Linked DNA regions of Homo sapiens: region 2 is linked to region 1. A link means that fine-mapping ties the variant in region 1 to the expression of a gene that starts in the linked region. Tissue or cell type: sun-exposed skin. Region 1 holds a variant in brackets; the other region holds the start of a gene. All regions are shown on one strand. Distances are from middle to middle. Region 1 overlaps TTC39A (tetratricopeptide repeat domain 39A). Region 2 holds the start of TTC39A (tetratricopeptide repeat domain 39A).

Evidence for each region.
Region 2: it holds the start of TTC39A, and the variant in region 1 is fine-mapped to the expression of TTC39A in sun-exposed skin (GTEx, PIP 0.98).

What each region holds. Positions count from the first base shown.
Region 1 is chr1:51,287,028-51,289,930 of GRCh38, forward strand. It overlaps TTC39A (tetratricopeptide repeat domain 39A), which reads right to left. Exons shown (of 18, transcript NM_001297663.2): 17 at 1,812-1,928; 18 at 231-1,253. The coding sequence ends at 1,130. Among named protein-coding and RNA genes, the nearest start is that of TTC39A-AS1, 41 kb to the right of the region's middle. The variant G/A (reference allele first, on the strand shown) is at 1,113.
Region 2 is chr1:51,328,683-51,331,585 of GRCh38, forward strand. It overlaps TTC39A (tetratricopeptide repeat domain 39A), which reads right to left and starts at 1,880. Exons shown (of 18, transcript NM_001297663.2): 1 at 1,755-1,880. The coding sequence starts at 1,795. TTC39A-AS1 (TTC39A antisense RNA 1) reads left to right here and starts at 972. Exons shown (of 3, transcript NR_123731.1): 1 at 972-1,127; 2 at 1,448-1,531; 3 at 2,190-2,599. RefSeq lists a silencer at 1,853-1,922 and an enhancer at 2,740-2,789.

The DNA of each region.
Region 1 (2,903 bases):
CCCCATTTGTGAATGCTGGTAACTTATTCAAAAAGTTTAAAACATTGTGTGGTCTAAATAAAACATACATAGGCCGTGTGGCTTCTGATCAAGACTTTCTGCCTGGCCTAAGGATTCATGCAACACATATTTTATTGAAATACATGATGCACGATCCCTTAAGGGCATAAATTTTATCACTTAAATATCTCTTTTCTCTTAACTGAAGAATCTAACGCATACACAACAGGTCAAGAATAACAGTTTTAACAAAAATGCTGTCAGTAAGCAAATGTACCTTGGAGTGAAGTACAGAAGATTTTTATGTTTCATAAATTATTCCCAGTGGTTTCAGTTTGGCATACAGCAAAGATACAGACTGGATTCTGAGAACCTCCTCCTGCCCCCCAAATTTCCTGGCTTTGGCATAGAAAGGGCTACACAGCTCTTCCATCAAGCCCTGGCATTTTCTACTGGTAGAGATTGATTTTTCTACAGAAGAGCTCAGATTTTATCTCACTAAAAAGACGTGCTTGATTTTTAAATTGGAAATTTACAAAAGGAGTGAAATGAAGTGTGAGTAGTAAGGTAGTGGGTGTCTGTGTACATCCTCATGCCCAACCCCAGAAGCATTGAAGCCTGAGGCTTAGCCTCTCCCAGGCATTCCTCAGGTCCTCTGAAGGACCTTCCGTCACACAAGCTGAGAACTTGCTGAATTTGAAAAGCAATTTGCCCTTTGGCATCATCATATAAAGAGATTTACCTCCAGATGATAATAGGTGAAGACAAAGACTTACAGGTGGTTGATTGTTGTTGGTTTTTAAAGCCAACTGTGATCCCATCAATGTATTTCTAAGGAAAATGTAAACTGTTCATACATTCTCTTAAACATCACAGTGAAAAGCAAGTACCCGTATGTGTGATAGGGCAGGCAGAGGGCTCCACCTGCTCTGCCCTTGGCAAAGGCCCTTGGCTACACTGGTGAAAATGCCAGCTCGGCTTCTGCACGGATACACTATGTTGTGCCATCCAACTGGAGTGCCGGTGGACCCCAAAGGCAGGGCAGGGCAGGGGGAGGGGGTATTTTGAAATGTTTTCAGGAGCTCTGTCCAGCTGTCTCTGTCTTCCAGCCC[G/A]GAACTGCTGCACAAAGCTACAAGGACACTGATGAGACCATGGATCTGCTGCTGTTCTCTAGGGAAGACTTGGCTTGGAGTGTGGCTGCCTGGATTCGAAAGTGTGTCCTTGACTCCATGGAGTAATTCTTGTAGTTTTGCCTGGAATTGAGCAGCGAATCAGACACATGAGGCTGCCTGCTCCCAGAGATGCTTTTCCTCCTGTTTGAGCTGTATGAGCCCCGCGAGCCAAGGAAGGATTGTAGAGAAATTAATGTGTCCAGAGAGAGTTGAGCCCTACCCAATGGGAGAGTTAACCAGAAGGGTTTGTGGCCCCTCATCCCTGGTATCATGGCCACTGGAACCACTCCTGGTCCTCCTGGGTTCCTAAGCTTGAAGGGGTGGTTTTAGGGAATAGACCCCTACCCTGGAAGGCAGGAGGCATGGGTCCTCACACAGCCATGCAGTTGGCTTCTGATGTGACCTTGGGAACTTACTTCCTGCCTCTGGGAGTCTAACTGCGCATTTATACATTAAGAAAGAAGTCTTCCTATGACAGGCGAGAGCTGGATTCCGAGGGACACAGGTCCACCCTCTAGACTGCCAGACTGGCCTTGCTAGCAACTCCACTCACTGCTCTCTGGGCAACTCTGTCCCCAGCCAGCTCCTGAGCTGAGTTCAGAGGGAGCAAAGGACAGACTGAGGTTACCCAAGCCTTACTTGGCAGATTCCAAAAGTTTGATGGCCTCTTCGTTTCTGTCTTGCTCCATAAGCAGCAGGGCCAGCTCCAGCAGGGCGTTTGGGATCAAGTAGTGGTCATATTTAATCTTCTTTTCACTGCAGAACAGAGGACATGGCTCAGGTTCCTCCTCCTGAGCCTCTCCCAAACTGCATGTGAGGATTTCCTAACCCGAACTCCAATTTTGGGAGGTTCCCACTACCCAGCCCTAGAAAGGCTGGGATCCATAGCAAAGCCTTCCCATCCTGTACCTTGGGCTCCAGCTCCCTGACAACCTATGGCTCCTGTCATGTCCTTAGTCCACCGCCACCTAAGTCCCGACCTCCCTTTCTCCAGGTTGAATGGTTTATTAAACTGTAAAGTCTCCTGTCTCTGATCTACCCTCTCTGACCCGACCTCCATGCTGTCCTGGAGATATCCTTTTAAACCCCAAGTCCTCCTTGCCCGGTACCCTTTCTGGCTGTCTTCTTTGGGATACAATTTAGCCTTGTGAACAAAACATCCAGGCCCTTCTCATTCTATCCCTCCTTTTTCATCTTCAATCTTTTCTCTCTATGACTTCACCCAGGCAGGTAAAGACCCCATCACCGTCACCCCAGCCTCAGATGTCTTTCCTGTGTCCATGCACTGGTGCATGCTGTACTTACTCCACTTCAAACCTGTCCTCCCTTGCTTTCTCTGCCTGATGAACTTCCCACTTTCAACATCAGCCTTGGAAAGCCTTTCCTGGTATCTCCCATTAAGTTTAGGTCCCTTCTTGGGGCACCTGCTGTCCTCTCCGCTTTCCTTTAGCATGGCCCTGACGAGCCTTGGTTGGGTTGCCTACAGCTTGCCATCTGTCACATTGCCCTCCCTGAGGGCAAGGATAGAGTCACCGAATTACAAACTCCAGGGGACACTGTTCACTCAAAACAACGTGGATGGACTCCTGTAGTCAGGCAATTTGGTGGCACTGGGAGGCTAGGTCTGAATTATCTGTACAGCTCCCGGCACAAGTCCTGGCACAGAGTGGACACTGGTTTAGTACCTGTGTGGTGAGTGGGGGTTGGCTAGGGTCAGCCACTGCAGTGGGC
Region 2 (2,903 bases), 42 kb after region 1:
ATATAAAATAAATGGGGCACAATGTTAATATCTGACAAAGTTGGGTGGCAAGGGTTTGTGAGTTCATTTTACTATTTGCTATATTTTTCTGAAGGCTTAAAATATTTCATAATTTTTAAAAAGGTAGAGATTTAAGGCTTGATTTGTTCACCAATGACCATCTGGGCCCAGAGCAGGCCTTGCTGAGTGTCTGTTGAGTGAGTGTCTCTGTAGTGAAGGTGAGAATGGTCCTGCTGCGTGCGGCCCTCCTCTGCTCAGACCCCACCAGGATGACACTAGCCAGGGTTGGGGACAGATGGACAGGTGGCTTCAAAGAAGAGTGGGCAGGCATGCAGAGAGGCAGGTACGGTTCTGCATAAGGAAGACCCACCAGCGTGAGAAGAGCAAGCTTGCTGTCCTGAGGCCTGCAGCAGGGCCAGAGGTGCCCGGGGTTGTAGAGGGCACTTAGGCAGGGATGTAAGCATATAAGGAAGTGGGATGAATGTGGTTTTCAGCCAGGGAGTCTAGACTTCTTTGATAGATACCTTGCTCCATGCCCGCCTTCTCTCCTGGAAACCACTTTTCTGGACCCAGCAGGGTGGTGGTGCTCAGTCAGGGCTGCACAGAAGGAACCTACCCAACCTCCAGCTTTACAAATACTTGAGCCCAGAACAGGAAAGGAACAGCCAGCCCCACTTCTGTGTTTTCCAAAGGAGGGACCAGAAGTCTAGGAAGGGTTAAGGACTTGGCCAAAGTCACACAACAAAAATGATGAAGCTGAAACTCACCAGGCAACCCTCTCCCAGGCCAGGGTGTCCCCCAGCAACCCAGCTTCCAAGCCCTGATAGAGCCACACACACGCAAGCCCTGTGGAGACTTCCAGCTGCCAGCTGGCACCAGCCTCGTCACCTCCCTGTTCATGTGTCAAGCCTCGGGCCCTTAGCAAATATTGTCACTGGTGGTGAGGCTCCAGGCAGGGTGAGCCCTCCTCCCAGCTCACCTGGGCCGGCTCTCTGCCCAGCAACCTCCCAGCAGTCAGGGCTCCTAGCAGCTGCCCCCTGCCCTGCCCACTGGGGCCCAGGAAAAGCAGAGAGTTGCTGAAGGTCTCCCGGCAGTAGCGGCTGTCACTGCTACGGGGGGTGATCTAGGTAGGGGTCCTATAGGGGTTTCTCAGTGGGATGTGGGTAGGGTTGGGCAGGAGAGCCACGTTGAAGGTGACAACACCCACTTTTTACTACCCAGGTTCCTGCTGCACCCAATGGGCCCGGCTGGCCCATACCTTAGCTGTTTAAGTTCCCCTAATGTCCCTGAAGATGATGGGGTGGGGGGATCTGACAACAGACAGAACTGAGTTCAAATCCCACCCGCAACTCTTACCTCCTGGGTGACCGATGACAAGTCACTTAAGTGCTGTGTCTCAGTTTCCTCATCTGTAATGGGGATGAGAGTAACAGGGCCCACCCCACAGGAGTGAACGCCACGAGGCAGGTGGGGAAGGCTGCTCTGAACGTGTCTGTGACTACAGCTCCGTGAGAAAGTTGGGACCCAGAAGGTGAGTGACCGACCCGGGGTCCCCGCGCCTCCGCCTCCTCACAGCCCCCTGCCCCCACTCCTGGCAGCGGCGGCGGCTGCCAGGGGCCGGGCGGGGTGGGGGCTGGAAGCCGCAGTGCGGCCCCAGGCCGGTGCGCGGGGGGAGGCCTGGCGCGGCGCCCGCCACCTGCCCGGGCCCCAGCCCGCGCCGCCCGCGCCCCCGGGCCTCCCAGCCGCGCACTTACCCCGCGGGCAGGGCTCCTGGGGCGCCGCCAGCCGAGGTCATCGCCGAGGGGCGCGGGCGGCGCTGCCCCAGCCGGACGCCAATCGCGGCCCAGGTGCTGCCGCCGCAACCCCGAGCCGGGCGCTGTGCGGTCGCGGACGCGGCGGCCGGGGAGGGGCGCGCCGGGGGCGGGGAAGGCGGCGGGGCCGGGCCGAGCCTCGGTCTCCCCACCCGCACCGTAGGGCCATGGCCGCCCGCGGCGACCCGCGCTCCCGCACCGCCGGGGGTTCTGGGCGGCCCCCACCCCCGCTCCGACAGGTGAGAGCCCGGCGCCCTCTGCGCAGACACCGCCCGGGCCGGGAGCTCGCTCCCTCCTCACACGTCCCCACCTATTTGGCGCTAGAAGTTCTTCTCCGGGACCTGAGGTCCACTTTACTGTCACTTCTCCTCCCCACAGCTTCCGCCCCGAAGCGGCCCCCACCTGAGCCGTCACCATCCTCCCGCATTAATGGGGGCATTCGTGCAGACAAAGACAGCCCCCAGAGTCAGGCCTGGATTTTAATCCCACCATCTCGCCCACTGAGTGACTGCAGGAGACCAGAAGGCGGGGAAAACACGGTTTAGCACTCACTGCTAGCTGGCAGTTCACACTGCCTTCTCAAATGATCCCCATAATTGCTATTTTACAGATGGGGAAACTGAGGCATGGGGTTCATTTGATTCACGCATGGTCACTCACCTAATAAGTGGCAAGCTAGGACTGGAATCCATCCCTCCTGAATCCAAAGCCAACACTCTGGCCCCTTTCCCCCTTGGCCCCCTCTCCCCTGCATTCCCAGTGCCTGTGTGGGGGTCACCCACAACGCTCCCCAAATGTCCACTGTGCACCGAGCCCTGAGGCGGTGTCTCCACCTGACCTGATCTTCTGGCACAGAAAGCCACTGGCCCATGAAGAGTTAACCAGTCACCATCTCCTGGCCCCAGATGCTGCTCTTAACCATGACTCATCAGAGCATGTGGCTGCCATTAGAGCTGTCCCTTCACAAAGGAGGGGACAGAAGTAAGGAAGGACTGTAGCTCCCCTGGAGCAACTATGACCTCCAGGACGTCAGAAGAGGAAGCAGAAGGGGACAGCCTGCAGAAGCAACCACGGTGGGAACAGGACTTGTAC